2 separate regions of the Homo sapiens genome follow, and region 2 is linked to region 1. Evidence: fine-mapped expression QTL. Tissue or cell type: aorta. Region 1 holds a variant in brackets; the other region holds the start of a gene. All regions are shown on one strand. Distances are between the middles of the regions.

The links. PIP is the estimated chance that this variant, and not a neighbour inherited with it, causes the effect.
Region 2: it holds the start of TRARG1, and the variant in region 1 is fine-mapped to the expression of TRARG1 in aorta (GTEx, PIP above 0.99). The same link has a PIP of 0.9 or more in tibial artery.

The regions. Positions count from the first base shown.
Region 1 is chr17:1,311,228-1,319,418 of GRCh38, reverse strand. No RefSeq gene overlaps it. Among named protein-coding and RNA genes, the nearest start is that of TRARG1, 36 kb to the right of the region's middle. The variant G/T (reference allele first, on the strand shown) is at 4,184.
Region 2 is chr17:1,274,857-1,283,028 of GRCh38, reverse strand. TRARG1 (trafficking regulator of GLUT4 (SLC2A4) 1 (gene/pseudogene)) reads right to left here and starts at 3,367. Exons shown (of 3, transcript NM_172367.3): 1 at 2,641-3,367. The coding sequence starts at 3,027.

The sequences.
Region 1 (8,191 bases):
AAAAATTAGTCAGGTGTGGTGGCATGTGCCTGTGGTCCCAGCGACTCAGAGGGCTGAGGTGGGAGGATTGCTTGAGCCCAGGAGGTCGAGGCTGCAGTGACCCGTGATCACGCCACTGCCCTCCAGCCCAAGAAACAGAGCAAGATCGTGTCTCCAAAAAAAAAAAGTATTGGCTGGGCGCGGTGGCTCACGCCTATAATCCCAGCACTTTGGGAGGCCAAAGCAGGCGGATCACTAGAGGTCAGGAGTTCAAGACCAGCCTGGCCAACATGGTGAGACCCCGTCTCTACTAAAGGTACAAAAATCAGCCAGGCGTCGTGGCGGACGGCTGTAATGCCAACTACTCGGGAGGCTGAGGCAGGGGAATCACTTGAATCTGGGGAGGAGGAGGTTGCAGTGAGCTGAGATTGCACCACTGCACTCCAGCCTGGGCGACAGAGTGGGACTCCATCTCAATAAATAAATAAATAAATAAATAAATAAATAAATAAATAAATAAGTGCTGGTGAGGATGCTGAGGCACTAGAACCCCTGTGCACCGTCGGTTGGAATGCACAATAGTGCAGTCACTATGGAAAACAGTAAGGCAAGTCCTCAAAAAGTTAAAAATAGAATTACCATGTGATCCAGCAGTTCCGCTTCTGGGTATATGCCCAGAAGAATTGAAAGCGGGATCTCAAAAAGATCTTTGCAAGCCCATGTTCACAGCAGTATTATATTTACAATAGCCAAAAGGTGGGCTGGGCGAGGCGGCTCATGCCTATAATCCCAGCACTTTGGGAGGCCGAGGCGGGCCAATCAGCTGAGGTCGGGAGTTCGAGACCAGCCTGACCAACCTGGCGAAACCCCGTCTATACTAAAAATACAAGAAATTAGCGGGGCGTGGTGGCTCATGCCTGTAATCCCAGCTACTTGGGAGGCTGAGGCAGGAGAATCACTTGACTCTGGGAGGTGGGGGTTGCAGTGAGCCTAGATCGACCCGTGGCACTCCAGCCTGGCCAAGAAAAGCGAAACTCCATTTCAATAAATAAATACATAAATAAAATAGGTTGTCATGGGTCAAATGAAATGTATGTGAAAGTAAGTGGCACATAGTAGATGTTCAATAAATGTGAGCTGAGGCCAGGCGCAGTGGCTCATGCCTGTAATCCCAGCACTTTGGGAGGCCAAGGGAGGTGGATCACCTGAGGTCAAGAGGAGTTCGAGACCAGCTTGTACAATATGGTGAAACCCTGTCTCTACTAAAAATACAAAAATTAGCTGGGTGTGGTGGTGGGCACCTGTAATCCCAGCTACTTGGGAGGCTGAGACAGGAGAATCGCTTGAACCCGGGAGGCGGAGGTTGCAGTGAGCAGTGATCGCGCCACTGCACTGCAGCCTGGGCAACAGAGTGAGAATCTGTCTCAAAAAAAAAAAAAAAAAAAAAAGAGAAAGAGCTGAATGTGAGCAAAATGGAGCTTCTGAGAGTAGAACAGCGTAGCTCGTGGTTTTCCCCCAGAAAATTAGCACTGAGGATAAGATTGACATTTTTGGTGAAAATAAAAATACAGTACTTACTGTGGATTTAATTCATCTGTGCCTAGCCTGTCTGAACTTTATTTTTTATTCTTTTAATGTTTTTATGTATTTTTTGAGACAGGGTCTTGCTCTGTCACCCAGGCTGGAGTGCAGTGGCGCAATCACGGCTCACTGCAGCCTCCAACTCCTGGACTCAAATGAATCTCCCTCCTCAGACTCCTAAGTAGCTGGGACTACGGTATGCACCACTATGCTTGGCTCATATTTTTTTGCATTTTTTTGTAGAGAAGGGATCTCCCTGGGTTCCCCAGGCTGGTCTCAAACTCTGAGGCTCAAGTGATCCTCCTGCCTCGGCCTCCCAAAGTTCTGGGATTACAGGTGTGAGCCACTGTGCCTGGCCCAGTTTATCTGAAGTGATGGAGAGATTGGTGAACTATTACTACATTTTTCTTTTTTCTTTCTTTCTTTCTTTTTTTTTTAATGGAGTTTCACTCTTTTTGCCCAGGCTGGAGTGCAGTGGGGCGATCTCGGCTCATTGCAACCTCCGCCTCCCGGGTTCCAGCGATTTTCCTGCCTCAGCCTCCTGAGTAACTGGAATTACAGGTGCCCACCACCATGCCTGGCTAATTTTATATTTTTAGTAGAGACAGGGTTTCACTATGTTGGCCAGGGTGGTCTCGAACTCCTGACCTCATGATCCACCCTTTTTGGCCTCCCAAAGTGTTGGGATTACAGGCATGAGCCACCAAGCCCGGCTTCCTATGTGTTTTCATAGGGTCTTTAAACTCCTGACTTTGAACTCCCAGGAGACCTGTGACTCACCTAATTAATCAGCTAGCCAAAGCTTTTTGTTAGATTCAATCTTGTGAAATCCATTTTCTTATCAGCACAAACTAGGGCTTTTGATAAAACAATATCCAAATGAAAAGGACTTTTAGGCCTCCCAAGATGTGCTTCACAGCCTCTTTTTAATTGAAAGCCTTTTACAAATGTAACCCATATTTCTGATTTGATCTTTTTCTAAAAGATGAAGCTTTTATTATTATATCTGGTTCCCATTCTAATTCCACTCTTACCAGCTGCAAGCTCCTGAGCAGGTTCTCGCTTCTGCACAAACCAACCCCAGGGGCCGGGCGCGGCGGCTCACGCCTGTAATCCCAGCACTTTGGGAGGCCGAGGAGGGTGGATCACTTGAGGCCAGGAGTTCGAGACCAGCCTGGCCAACATGGTGAAACCCCATCTCTACTAAAAATATAAACATTAGCCGGGCCCAGTGGTGAGTGCCTGTAATTCCAGCTACTTGGGAGGCTAAGGCAGGAGAATCACTTGAACCCGGGAGGTGGAGGTTGCAGTGAGCCAGGATCGCGCCACTGCGCTCCAGCCTGGGTGACAGAGCCAGACTCCGTCTCAAAAAAAAAAAAAAAACCCACTTAGAGAAATTGTTGTTTTCTTCTTCAGGCTTTTCGCATTTTCCAAGTTTGCTGCAATGACGTTGTATTAATTTTGCAATTGGAATGAAATTAAGAAAGGAAAAAACCCACTCCACACCCCTGGGCAAAGTCACCCAGGAGGGAGAAGGTTCACAGCCAGGCAGTGGGAATGTGGAGGCTGTGGGCTGGTGAGAGGTTTTCCCTGCCATTTCCCCCCCTTTCTGTCCTGTCGCTATTATGTTGCTCTTATAATTAAACCCGCTGTGCAGGGAGCCGCTGATCTTGGTCGCCTGGGGTGTGTGTTTACCTCCTGCCTGTTTAAGCAGCCCATGAGTGGCTCCCACGGGCCATGATGAAAACATGAGTTCCTCCAGCTCGGTTCCCCTGGGAGGGCAGCCGGGCCCTGCCTGGAACCTCGTGTTCCCCTCTCCAGGGAGCGTCTGTAGACCCTGGAATGTCTGCACGGGCTAACAACCAGAGGGAGCCAAGCCTGGGACCTCTGTACCCTGAGACCTCAGTGCCCTGGGACTTCCCAAAGACCCAACAGGTGGATGAGTTCTGGGAAGACTGTGGGGTCTGGTTTTAAGGGTGAGAGCAAATCACACTGGCCCGTTCTTAGATCCGGGTTCAATCCCATTACCTGGATTTTCCAGCATCCGTGGTGCCTGTTCACTGGATATCCTGTACAGCCACGGGCCCCCTGAGTGGCTTAGGAGGTCGGAAAGGGCCTCTGACCTCAGCAGGGAACCAGGAGGTAGACGCATCCATTTTCCCCACTGGCCAGGCTGGAGCTGGCAGCCCTGCCTCCAACTGGGGCAATGGGAGGGCAGGCTGATAGCAAAGGAGACGCTGGAGGCAAGAGCCCGACCAAAGCATCCAGCTCCAGGGCGAGGGCCAAGAGCAAGAACCAGATCCAAAGCAAAGGTCAGGAAGACGGGAGCCTGGGGAGGGCAGCGGGGGAGAGGCTTTTCTGGAGAGCTCTGTCCTGGAGGGAGAGGAAGCTTTTTTTTTTTGAGATGGAGTCTCACTCTGTCACCAGGCTGGAGTGCAATGGCGCGATCTCGGCTCACTGCAACCTCCACCTCCCGGGTTCAAGCGATCCCCCTGTCTCAGCCTCCCGAATAGCTGGGACTACAGGCGTGTGCCACCACACCCAGCTAATATTTATATTTTTAGTAGAGACGGGGTTTCACCATGTTGGCCAGGATGGTCTTGATTTCTTGACCTCATGATCC[G/T]CCCGCCTCGGCCTCTCAAAGTGCTGGGATTACAGGCGTGAGCCACCGTGCCCGGCCGGGGAGAGGGAGCTTCTCAGGGCTTCCAGCCCCTCCAGCAGCTCAGGCCGCCTGGTGTTTTGGTGTCATTTCAGTCAGGTGAGGCTGATGCATCTTAAGGAGGCAGGTTTGTGGGAGATAGAAGGGATCTGCTACTTAAAAGCCCCTCGAAGTCCAGCTACCATGCAAAGGCCACTTACTAGAGCCCTTTTATTATAAAGCGACTATAGCTGTATGTCACAAATTTCTTTTTAAAAGCCCGGAAGAAAAATGTTCAGCTCTTCACATTGATTGCTTCAGCTAATGGATTACAGGGAATCATCTGTTCTCCCTCAGACATTCCTATTTTTTCAATTAAATTATAAATGATAAAGGTAATACATCTATAAATGCTTGGTGTAAGGTTCCAACGAAACAAGGTATATGGGATAAAAACTGGAGACTGCCTTTCTCACCTCCAGTCCCATAGCGACTCCCCCAGCCATGAGCGACGGCTGGTATCAGTTTGGTGCAGAGAACTTAGATGGGGTTTCTGTTTTGTTTTAAATAAGTTTAAAGAGTGAATCTCTTCACGCCTGTATCCAGCACTTTGGGAGGCTGAGGCTGGTGGATCACGACATCAGGAGATCAGACCATCCTGGCTAACACAGTGAAACCCCGTCTCTACTAAAAATACAAAAAATTAGCCGAGCATAGTGGTGGGTGCCTGTAGTCCCAGCTATTCGGGAGGCTGAGGCAGGAGAATGGCATGAACCCGGGAGGCGGAGTTTGCAGTGAGCCAAGATCGTGCCACTGCACTCCAGCCTGGGTGACAGAGCGAGACTCCATCTCAAAAAAAAAAAAAAAAAAAAAAGAGTGAATCTCACATGGGCTGGGGAGCACAGAAAATTCTTGCGGAGGATGGTTGCCCGAGAGAGTCAGGGCAAGCATAATGTTTTGTTTTAAATAAGTTTAAAGAGTGAACCTCGGCCGGGCACGGTAGCTCATGCCTGTAATCCCAGCACTTTGGGAGGCCGAGGTGGGCAGACCATGAGGTCAGGAGTTCGAGACCATCCTGGCCAACATGGTGAAACCCCGTCTCTACTAAAAATACAAAAATTAGCCGGGCGTGGTGGAAGATGCCTGTTATCCCAGCTACTCAGGAGGCTGAGGCAGGAGAATTGCTTGAACCCGGGAGGCGGAGGTTGCAATGAGCCAAGATCGCACCACTGCACCCCAGCGTAGGCAACAGAGCTAGACTCCATCTTGGAGGAAGGAAAAAAAAAACAAAGTGAATCTGACATGGGCCAGGGAGCACAGAAAGTTCTTGCGGATGATGGTTGCCCTAGAGAGTCAGGGCAAGCGTTGCAACATCAGACAGGGGCCTCTGGGACCTGGTCCTTGCACCATAGTCTTGCTCCTGCATTCCTGGAAATGTCCCAAGAAGACCAGGCTCTCCTCTCACCCAGAAACACCTTCCCCTGACAGTCAACTGTGTACAAGGGCACCCTCTTGCCACTTCCTTGAGGAACATAAAATTCAAACCAAATTGAGAAATTTGTGGAAGAAAAGCCTCTATCCAGTGAAAAACAAGTGGGGAAACTTTGAAAACACCAGCACATACGAAGGCAGGAACGAGGGCTCATCTGCTTCTGGCGACCCAGCCTCCAATCTGCCCTTTGCACTAGGGAACATTCCCACTGCGGAGGTGAGAGCATTCCCACTGGGGAGATGAGAACATTCCCACTGGGGAGGTGAGAGCATTCCCACTGGGGAGGTGAACATTCCCACTGGGGAGGTGAGAACATTCCCACTGGGGAGGTGAGAGCATTCCCACTGGGGAGGGGAACATTCCCACTGGGGAGGGAGCATTCCCACTAGGGAGGTGAACATTCCCACTGGGGAGGTGAGAACATTCCCACTGGGGAGGTGAGAACATTCCCACTGGGGAGGTGAACATTCCCACTGGGGAGGTGAGAACATTCCCACTGGGGAGGTGAGAACATTCCCACTGGGGAGGTGAGAGCATTCCCACTGGGGAGGGGAACATTCCCACTGGGGAGGTGAGAGCATTCCCACTGGGGAGGGGAACATTCCCACTGGGGAGGTGAGAGCATTCCCACTGGAGAGGTGAGAGCATTCCCACTGGAGAGGTGAGAGCATTCCCACTGGGGAGGGAGCATTCCCACTAGGGAGGTGAACATTCCCACTGGGGAGGTGAGAGCATTCCCACTGGGGAGGGGAGAGCATTCCCACTGGCGAGGTGAGAGCATTCCCACTGGGGAGGTGAGAGCATTCCCACTGGGGAGGTGAGAGCATTCCTACTGGGGCAGAGAGCAGATTGGAGGCTGGGACTTCCCAAAGCCCCCAACAGATGGATGAGTTCTGGGAAGACTGTGGGGGTCTGGTTTTACAGGTGAGAGCAAATCACACTTGCTTATTATTAGATCCAGGTTCAATCCCATTACCCAGATTTTCCAGCATCCGTGGTGCCTCTTCACCGGATATCTCGCTACAGCCACCGGTCCTCCAAATGGCTTACCACGAAGGAAAGGGGCTCTGTCTGAGGCTTCTGGCTGAGACCTGTGTTCATCTGGCACTTTCCAAAGGCAGTTTAGCCCCCCATTCCCAGGGGGTCCCCCAGCCATCTGGTCTGGTCAGCCCCAGTGTCCCAGGCTCCCAGCCACCTGGCCCTGGGGCTTCCACGTCTAGCCCCATCCCAGGAGCACCCTCCCTCTTCCAGGCCTGTGTGGTTGCCATGGCGACCCAGTCAGCTGACCCAGTGAGGAGGCAAAGCCCAGGCTGCCTTCTTCTCCCTGGCTCAGGAGTGGGTGGACCCAGTGGGGCCTCCACAGCAAGGGCTGCTTTTGAAGCACCTTCAGAATTCACTCCCCCAGTGCCTAAACCCTGTGTTTAAATTATAGGTAGGGAGCGGGCACAGTGGCTCACGCCTGTAATCCCAGCACTTTGGGAGGCCGAGGCGGGCGGACCATCTGAGGTCAGGAGTTCAAGACCAGCCTGGACAACGTGGTGAAACCCCGTCTCTACTAAAAATACAAAAATTAGCCGGGCGTGGTGGTGCATGCCTGTAGTCCCACCTACTTGGGAGGCTGAGGCAGGAGAATCGCTCGAACCCGGGAGGCGGAGGCTATGGTGAGCCAAGATCTCGCCATTGCACTCCAGCCTGGGCAAGGGTGAAACTCTATCTCAAAACAACAACATCAAAAATTATAGGCAGGAAAAAAATGGGAGAGAGAGAAACTGGACACCTTAATGCCTCACAATGGGAGAAAGGATAAGTAAATAAATAAGTTATCATGTATATGCATTATCCAGCCGTCTTAAAAGGATGTTTACAGATAATTTTTTGTATACAGAGTTTTTAATAACGGAAATACTTGGGTTTGCAAATCTAAAACTTAGCTTTACAAGAAAATATTTCTCAAAGAAGGGGCTTGGCAACCCATCGAATTTAGGAAATACTGCATAATCCACCCTTTCTTGGAGGTACATGGTGCACGTGGGTGTATGAAGGTCTCTGAGAAATCTTACTGTCATGCTCCGTTTAGCTCGACGTAATTCACGGTTTTCCTGACTGTCTGATGACAGCGTGTAGCTCGATGTCATTCCGTTTTCCTGATCTGTCTGATGACAGCGTGTAGCTCGATGTCATTCCGTTTTCCTGATCTGTCTGATGACAGCGTGTAGCTCGATGTCATTCCGTTTTCCTGATCTGTCTGATGACAGCGTGTAGCTCGATGTCATTCCGTTTTCCTGATCTGTCTGATGACAGCGTGTAGCTCGATGTCATTCCGTTTTCCTGATCTGTCTGATGACAGCGTGTAGCTCGATGTCATTCCGTTTTCCTGATCTGTCTGATGACAGCGTGTAGCTCGATGTCATTCCGTTTTCCTGATCTGTCTGATGACAGCGTGTAGCTCGATGTCATTCCGTTTTCCTGATCTGTCTGATGACAGCGTGTAGCTCGATGTC
Region 2 (8,172 bases), 36 kb after region 1:
CCTGGTATTCATCACACCTGACTCAAAAACGTAAAAGGGGCCGAGTGTGGTGGGCACTTGCCTGTAATCCCAGCACTTTGGGCGGCCGAGGTGGGAGGATCACCTGAGATCAGGAGTTTGAGACCAGCCTGACCAACATGGAGAAACCCCGTCTCTACTAAAAATACAAAAATTAGCCAGGCATGGTGGCCAGCGCCTGTAATGCCAGCTACTTGGGAGGCTGAGGCAGGAGAATTGCATGAACCTGGGAGACGGAGTTTGCAGTGAGCCAAGATCGCACCATTGCACTCCAGCCTGGGCGACAGAGCGAGGCTCCGTTTCAAATAAAACAAAACAAAACCTTTAAAGAATATAGAAACAGGCCAGGTTCAGTGGCTCACACCTGTAATCCCAGCCCTTTCGGAGGCCGAGGTGGGTGGATCACGAGGTCGGGAGTTCAAGACCAGCCTGGCCAACATGGTAAAACCCCGTCTCTACTAAAAATACAAAAATTAGCCAGGTGTGGTGGTGGGCTCCTGTAATCCCAGCTACTCAGGAGGCTGAGGCAAGAGAACTGCTTGAACCTGGGAGGCAGAGGTTGCAGTGAGCCGAGATCGCACCATTGCACTCCAGCCTGGGTGACAGAGCAAGACTCTGTCTTAAAATATATATACATATACGTACATATATACATATATACGCATATGTACATATACGTACATATATGTACATATATACGCATATGTACATATACGTACATATATGTACATATACGTGCATATATGTACATATACGTACATATACGTGCATATACGTACATATACGCACGTGTATACGTACATATACGCACGTGTACACGTACATATACGCACGTGTATACGTACATATATGCACGTGTATACGTACATATATGCGTGTATATGTACATATGTGCATTTATGTGTACACATATACGTATATATGTACATATATGTATATATGTGTATACATGTACATATGTGTACATATGTGTGTATATATGTACATATGTATATGTACATATGTGTATATCTGTATATATGTACATATATGTACACGTGTGCATATATGTACATGTATGTGCATATATGTACATGTATGTATATGTATATATAGAAACTCACTGGGGCAGGTTCTGTGGTCTCATTGCCTTGGGCTTAGGCTCTGTTTGTCAGAGGCAGGTCCTGCCCAGCCTGCACCCTGCCACCCCACCAGGAGATGGATTCCAGCAGCTGTTTTCTCCTGAGCCCTTGGGTAGCTTCCCTCCCCAAATCCAGTTTCCCCTCCTGGGGCCTTTCCCTGTAACCAAGAGGCAGGCCCTGCCCACAGCCACTGGCTGCACCCCTGGGTCCTGGCTTTACCTGCAAGCGGTCCCCAGGTACAGCAGGCATCACAGAGAGCTGCCCGGAAGGCCCCTGCCCGGCCCTGCTTCCACAGCCCATGCCAAGTCCCTCAGACTCAGGAAGGCTGCCAGTGCCCCCTGATGTCCTGAAAGGTAGTACTGGCTTTGGTGGGATGGGGAAGGCTTCCCTGCTGGGAGACTGGGCCTCCCTGAGGTAGACAGAGTGGTTTGAAGAAATAGGAGCTTTCTCAGAGGACAGCTCCTGGGGGTTCGGTGATGGTGACTCTGCAGGGAGTCACTCTTGGGAACCCCCCTCCACACCTAGTCCTCTGGCCCTGACCAGCCTGGGCCAGCAGTTTTCTACCCCCTGCCCCTGACCTCACTCTGAAATCATTGCTGAGCCCTGCTTCTCCCTCTCCCCACCCTTTCATAACTCTCGCTTCTTCCTGGACTTCAAAAGTCACTTGCCAATATCTGCTGACATTTTCTATGGAATCCTTTATAAGTAGCTCTACCCAAAGGGCTTGGGTTGGAGACAATCTAAGACAATTCATTCAAAATCCCATGGAAGTACAGACCCGGCCCCATGCCCCTTCCTGGGCATGGCAGGCCATGCCCTCTGACTCTCACATTTTTCACTTGTGACCCAGACCTCCCCTGCCCTGAAGACGAGGCTGAAGTCAGCGTAGCTGTGGAGCTGCAGAGGGCTCCGGAGGGAACTCCACGCCTCGGGAGGAGCAGTCTGCCAGCTCTCCCCGCTTTGTGCGCCCCTCGGGGGAGCCTGGCCCCGGAGCCCTCAGGGTACGGCAGGGAAGCCGCTGCGACTCTTGGAAACCGGAGCCGGCAGAGGCTGGGAGCATGTCCAGGTGGCCTGGGAGGACACATGGGCGCTGGGACCCCCGTCCGGTGCAACCTCTGCTGAGACAGCCCCACTTGGCGATGACCCTTTGGGACCGCCCGTCCCTCCTAAAACAGCAAGACCCCCAGCCTGGCTATCTTTCTGCCCCGCGGGATGTATCGCCAGGCAGCTCCCTGAGGGCCCCTCCCCAGCAGACACAGGTGCAAAGTCGAGCTCTGATGCCCAGAAGCAGAGATGAGAGAACAGAGCAGGAGCTCTTCCAGCCCCGGGGCCCCTCTCTAAGAGGAAGGAGGAGGCCAGTGAGGAAAGGAGTCTTCCCCAAGCCCCCCACTCCCAGCTCTCTCTTCTCCACACCCTGGGCAGTGTTTGGTGCCTGCCTGGGGGAAACACCTGCCGACCCCTGGGCCCAGCCCCTGCCCCTGGAACAAAGACCAGCACTTACCATGATGGAAATGATGAGGGGGATGAGGTTGAGGGGCCAGACGGGGCAGAAGCAGGCGACGACGGCCAGGATGAGGTAATCTCTGGGGGCTTCTTGGTCTTGGGCATAGGAGGTGGTGGCGATGGAGGACGCCCTCCTTGAGCTGGCCCGGGAGGGGGACCGAGGCAGTGGGGCCTCCAGGTGCCCCTCGGAGATGGCCTTGAAGGGTAGGCCCTGGCTGTTCTGCTCCAGATCCAGAGGCCCCGAGAGGGTCTTGGACAGATTCAGGGTCTTGTCATCCTTGTTCTCTGCCTTGGTGAGGAGTATCTCCATCTCCGGCAGGTCCAGGAATGCGGCGGAGCCTGGCTCCTGTGCTGAAGGAAACTCGGACTGCACCGGGTGGGCCATGGGGGCCTGGGCCTTGCGCGGCTGCAGCTCCAGGCTGGGACAAGGGGCTCTGGAGGGACCTCAGCGCGCCATTCCCCAGCCCAGACTGAGGGCCTCCAGGTCGGGGGCAGGGGCGTCCCTCAGGAGACGGAGGGCCGGCTGGGTGCTGGAAGGGTTGGGCTGAGCTTCTCAAGCCAGCTGAGTTCAGAGGCTGGGGCCTGCCTGCTGCCCCCGCGGAGCTCCCAGAAAGACGCTGGAGCCTGCAGCTTTGTTCAAGTTTGAGGCCAACTTTGCTGGTGCTGCTGAGAGCACAGATGGGCAGGGAAGCAACGGAAAGCTCAGAGAGCAGAGAGAAGAATGCGCCTCTTCCCAGGGAGGCTCAGGCTCAGTCAGGGAGGCTGTGTGTGTGTGTGTGTGTGTGTGTGTGTGTGTGTGCGTGTGCGCACACGGCCTCCCTCCCTCTCCCCCTCCTTGGTGATGCTTTTCCTTTTCAATTCCCCTCTCCCCAGAGAACCACCCTGGCAGGATTTTGCCTCTGCCCCAGCCCAGCCCAGCCCAGCCCAGCTCTGCCCAGCCCAGCCCAGCCCAGCCCAGAGGGACTTGGGCCAGCCTCCGGTTTCTGTTGCAGCTCCAGGGCCTGCTCCTCTGGGCAGGGTCTCTGGATGGGGAGAAAGACACTTTGGGCCCCACAGGGATGTGTCTTCAGCTGTCCTGGGAACTGAGCCCTCCGCTGCTTCTTCCAAAGCAAGCGTGTACTTCTTTCTTTCTGTTGGGAAATGCTGGACCTTAGGGCCCCCTATTACATCCCACCCAGACCCTGACCCCCAACCGCTGGGAGCATCCAGGCCAAAGCCTGGCTCCCGACTCCAGAAGGGAAGGGGAGATGTGAGCACCAGGGTAGCCCCTGGATCCTGCCTGGACCCTGCATGGACCAGCAGGGCCCCATGAGTAGGTTTCTACGTAGCTCACCACCAGGTGGGGAAGAGGATAAGGGGGAGTGTTGGGTCCACCTCATGCCCATCAGAACGATTCTGGGGTGCTAAAGAGCCGGTGGCAGAGAGCCCCTAGGTCAGCTGCTCCGGGCAGATGCCAGCTCGGAAGGGCCTCAGGCTGTTTGTCCTATCGGATTCTCCTCCTTTGTTCTCTCTTAGGTTTTCTCCCTCTGTCTCTGCCTTCTTCTCTATCCTCGGCATCTCTTTCTATATTCCTGACGCCCCTCCTTACATTGTTTTACAAGTGTGATCTGGAGCCGCCACGGATGTGTGTGTGTGGTTTGAAAGTGGTTGTATGAAATAGTTTAAAATCCTACGATCAGGCGGGATGCCATGGCTCATGCCCATAAACCCAGCACTTCGGGAGGCCGAGGCAGAAGGACTGCTTTAGCCCAGGAGTTTGACACCAGCCTGGGCAACATGGCAAAATCCCATCTCTACAAAAAATACAAAAAATATATGGGCGTGGTGGTACATGCCTGTAATCCCAGCTACTTGGGAGGCTGAGGGAGGAGAATCGCTTGAGCCTGGGAGGTCCAGGCTGCAGTGAGCCGAGATCCTGCCGCACAGCTCAGTGGGAGATATGGGGCTGAAAGGACACCTGGAAATGAATAAGATTTGAAAACTCAGCCGGGCACGGTGACTCATGCCTGTAATCCCAGCACTTTGGGAGGCTGAGGCAGGTGGATCACTTGAGGTCAGCAGTTCGAGACCAGCCTGGCCATCATGGCAAAACCCTGTCTCTACTAAAAATACAAAAATTAGCGTGGTGGTGGGTGCCTGTAACCACAGCTACTTTGGAGACTGAGGCAGGAGAATCACTTGAACCTGGGAAGAAGCGAACGTTGCAGTGAGCCAAGGTTGCACCACTGCACTCCAGCCTGGGTGACAGAATGAGACTCCAACTAAAAACAAACAAACAAACAAACAAATAAAAAACAATGTTTGTGGCTTTGGGAGAACTTTGCAGGTTTCATAAATTTGACTATATTAAATTAAGAATTTTGCTCAGGCTGGGCATGGTGGCTCACGCCTGTAATCCCAGCACTTTGGGAGGCCAAGGTGGGCAGATCACGAGGTCAGGAGATTGAGACCATCCTGACCAATGTGGTGAAACCCCGTCTCTACTAGAAATACAAAAATTAGCTGGGTGTGGTGGCACATGCCTGTAATCCCAGCTACTCAGGAGGCTGAGGCAGGAGAATTGCTTGAACCCGGGAGGCAGAGGTTGCAGTGAGTGGAGATCATGCCACTACACTCCAGCCTGGGTGACAGAGTGAGACTCCTCTCAAAAAAATAAAAGAGAGAGAGAGAGAGAATTGTGCTCAATAAAGGAAACCCATTGTTATTTGCAAAATGAAGACCTTGGGGAGCCGCCTCGTCCTCCTCTCAGTCCTCAGGGAGGCCAGGTGTGGGGCCTGGGAGCGAGCTGGGCTCCCCTGCTTATGAGCGTCCAGAAATACGATAATCCTGTATAACAGGAAAGCTCCTTCACAGGGTGGCTAGGTGGGTCCCTGAGACCCCTTAGGCTCCAAGCCGGTATCCAGTTGGGCAGAATGCCATGGTACAGCCTTGGAGCTGACCCCTGGGTGGAGGGACGACAGCTACCCAGCCCAATTCGGTAGCCCCTAGCCACATGTGGCTTCCGAGCCCTTGAAATGTGACTCATCCAAGTTGAGATGTAAAATACACACAAGACATCGAAAACTGGGTCCAAACACAAAAAGAATGGAAAATATCTCATTAATACTTTTTATTGATTGTATATTGAAAGGATAATATTTTGGATATATTGGGATAAATAAAACGTTATTAAAATCAACATTATTGATTTCATCTGCTTATTTTTACGTTCTAAAAATGTGCCTAGTAGAAAATTAAAAAAATTTTTTTTTGAGACAGAATCTCGCTCTGTCACCAAGCTGGAGTGCAGTGGCGCGATCTCGGCTCACTGCAACCTCCGCCTCCCAGGTTCAAGCGATTCTCCGGCCTCAGCCTCCTGAGTATCTGGGATTACAGGCATGCACCACCACGCCTGGCTAATTTTTGTATTTTTAGTAGAGATGGGGTTTTACCATGTTGGCCAGGCTGGTCCCAAACTCCTGAACTCAGGTGATTCACCCGCCTCTGCCTCCCAAAGTTCTGGGATTACAGGCATGAGCCACCGCGCCCGGCCTCAACACATGATTTTAAAAATTCATTTCATATAAAAATTGGGGTTTCAGGCTGGGCACGGTGGCTCACGAGATAGAGTCTTGCTCTGTTGCCCAGGCTGGAGTGCAGTGTTGTGATCTTGGCTCTAGGCTTGCTGCAACCTCTGCCTCCCGGGTTCAAGCGATTCTCCTACCTCAGCCTCCCGAGTAGCTGGGATTACAGGCATCCACCACCACGTCCGGCTAATTTTTGTATTTTTAGTAGAGACAGGGTTTCGCCATGTTGGCCAGGCTAGTCTTGAACTCCTGACCTCAGGTGATCTGCCCACCTCGGCCTCCCAAAGTGCAGGGATAACAGGCGTGAGCCACCGCACCCGGCTATATGTTAAATTCTTGATGGAATAAAAGGAGGAAAGAAAAAACTAAGAAGTCCCCAGAGTAGTCCCTGGCACGAGGTTGCCTGGGCGGGCTGGGGTCGGGGGTAATTAGGGACCCACGTTTGCTCCGCCCGTGTGGGATGCTGGAGTCTCAGCGCCACCTCGTGGCAGGTAGTGATGAGGGGAATGACCAGAGTGGAGGGAGCCCGAGGGAGGCAGCAGCGGATTTGGGCTCCCGGCGGTGACCCCAACCTTTGAGCACCCTACATGCGAGGGATGCTGAGAGAGGACAGGGATGTGAACAGTGCGGGGGAGTGGACCTGCCCATGAGGGGTCCTTTGGGGGGTGAGGTGGGGCGGGGAAGAAACCTCAGAAGCATAAGCAAGTTCAAGCCGAAGCCCAGGGGAAGGAGAAACATCCTCCTCATATCTCTGCCCCACAGCCCTTTCATCCTTGGCGTCTCACTGGGTGTCAGGAAACCCTACGGGGCTGACAGGGAAGGTGCAATTGAGCCAATTCCTCTTCTCACTGAAGCCTTCCTGGGCCCCGTTCAGGAGTTCTGCTCCAGGAGTGAGAGAGTAGCCTCCTGACATCTGTGTACACACACACACACACACACACTCTCACACACTCTCTCTCACACACACACTCTCACACTCTCATACACTCACCCCACACACTCTCACACACTCACACACTCACACACTCACCCCCACACACATTCACACACCCTCAGTCACCCCCACACACTCACACACACTCACACACTCACCCACACACCCCCCCCACACACACATTCACACACACTCACACACTCACACACTCGCCCCACACACATTCACACACCCTCACACTCAGTCACCCCACACACTCACACACACTCATACACTCACCCCCCACACACTCACACACTCACACACTCACCCCACACACATTCACACACCCTCACAATCACCCCCACACACTCACCCCCACACACATTCACACACCCTCACACACACACTCACACACTCACCCCCACACACATTCACACACCCTCACTCACACACACACAGTCACCCCCACACACATTCACTCACACACACTCGCACACTCATTCACACACACACACGCACGTCCTTTTGTAAAGTGTGATAAACATTGACGTAATCGTGCGCCCATCAGCAAGCACCCCAGAATTTCACATCCAGGGAGGCGGGTCCACCTGAAGGAACCCACTGGGGATGCGTCTCCTTTCTGTCCTTGCTCAAAACACATCCCTACTCCTCTTGGGAGTTTTCCTAAGGAGACTGATCTTGCACTTTTTTTTTTTTGACACCAAATCTCACTCTGTTGCCCAGGCTGGAGTGCAGTGGTGCTATCTCGGCTCACTGCAACCTCCGCCTTCTGGGTTTCAAGTGATTCTCCTGCCTCAGCCTCCTCCCAAGTAGCTGGGATTACAGGCTCCTGCCACCATGCCTGGCTAATTTTTGTTTGTTTAGTGGAGACGGGGTTTCGCCATGTTGGCTGGGCCTAATTTTTCACCTTTTAAAATAACAATGATGAAGACTCTAATGAAAATTAGGCCGGGCGCGGTGGCTCATTTCTGTAATCCCAGCACTTTGGGAGGCTGAGGCGGGCGGATCACGAGGTCGGGAGACCATC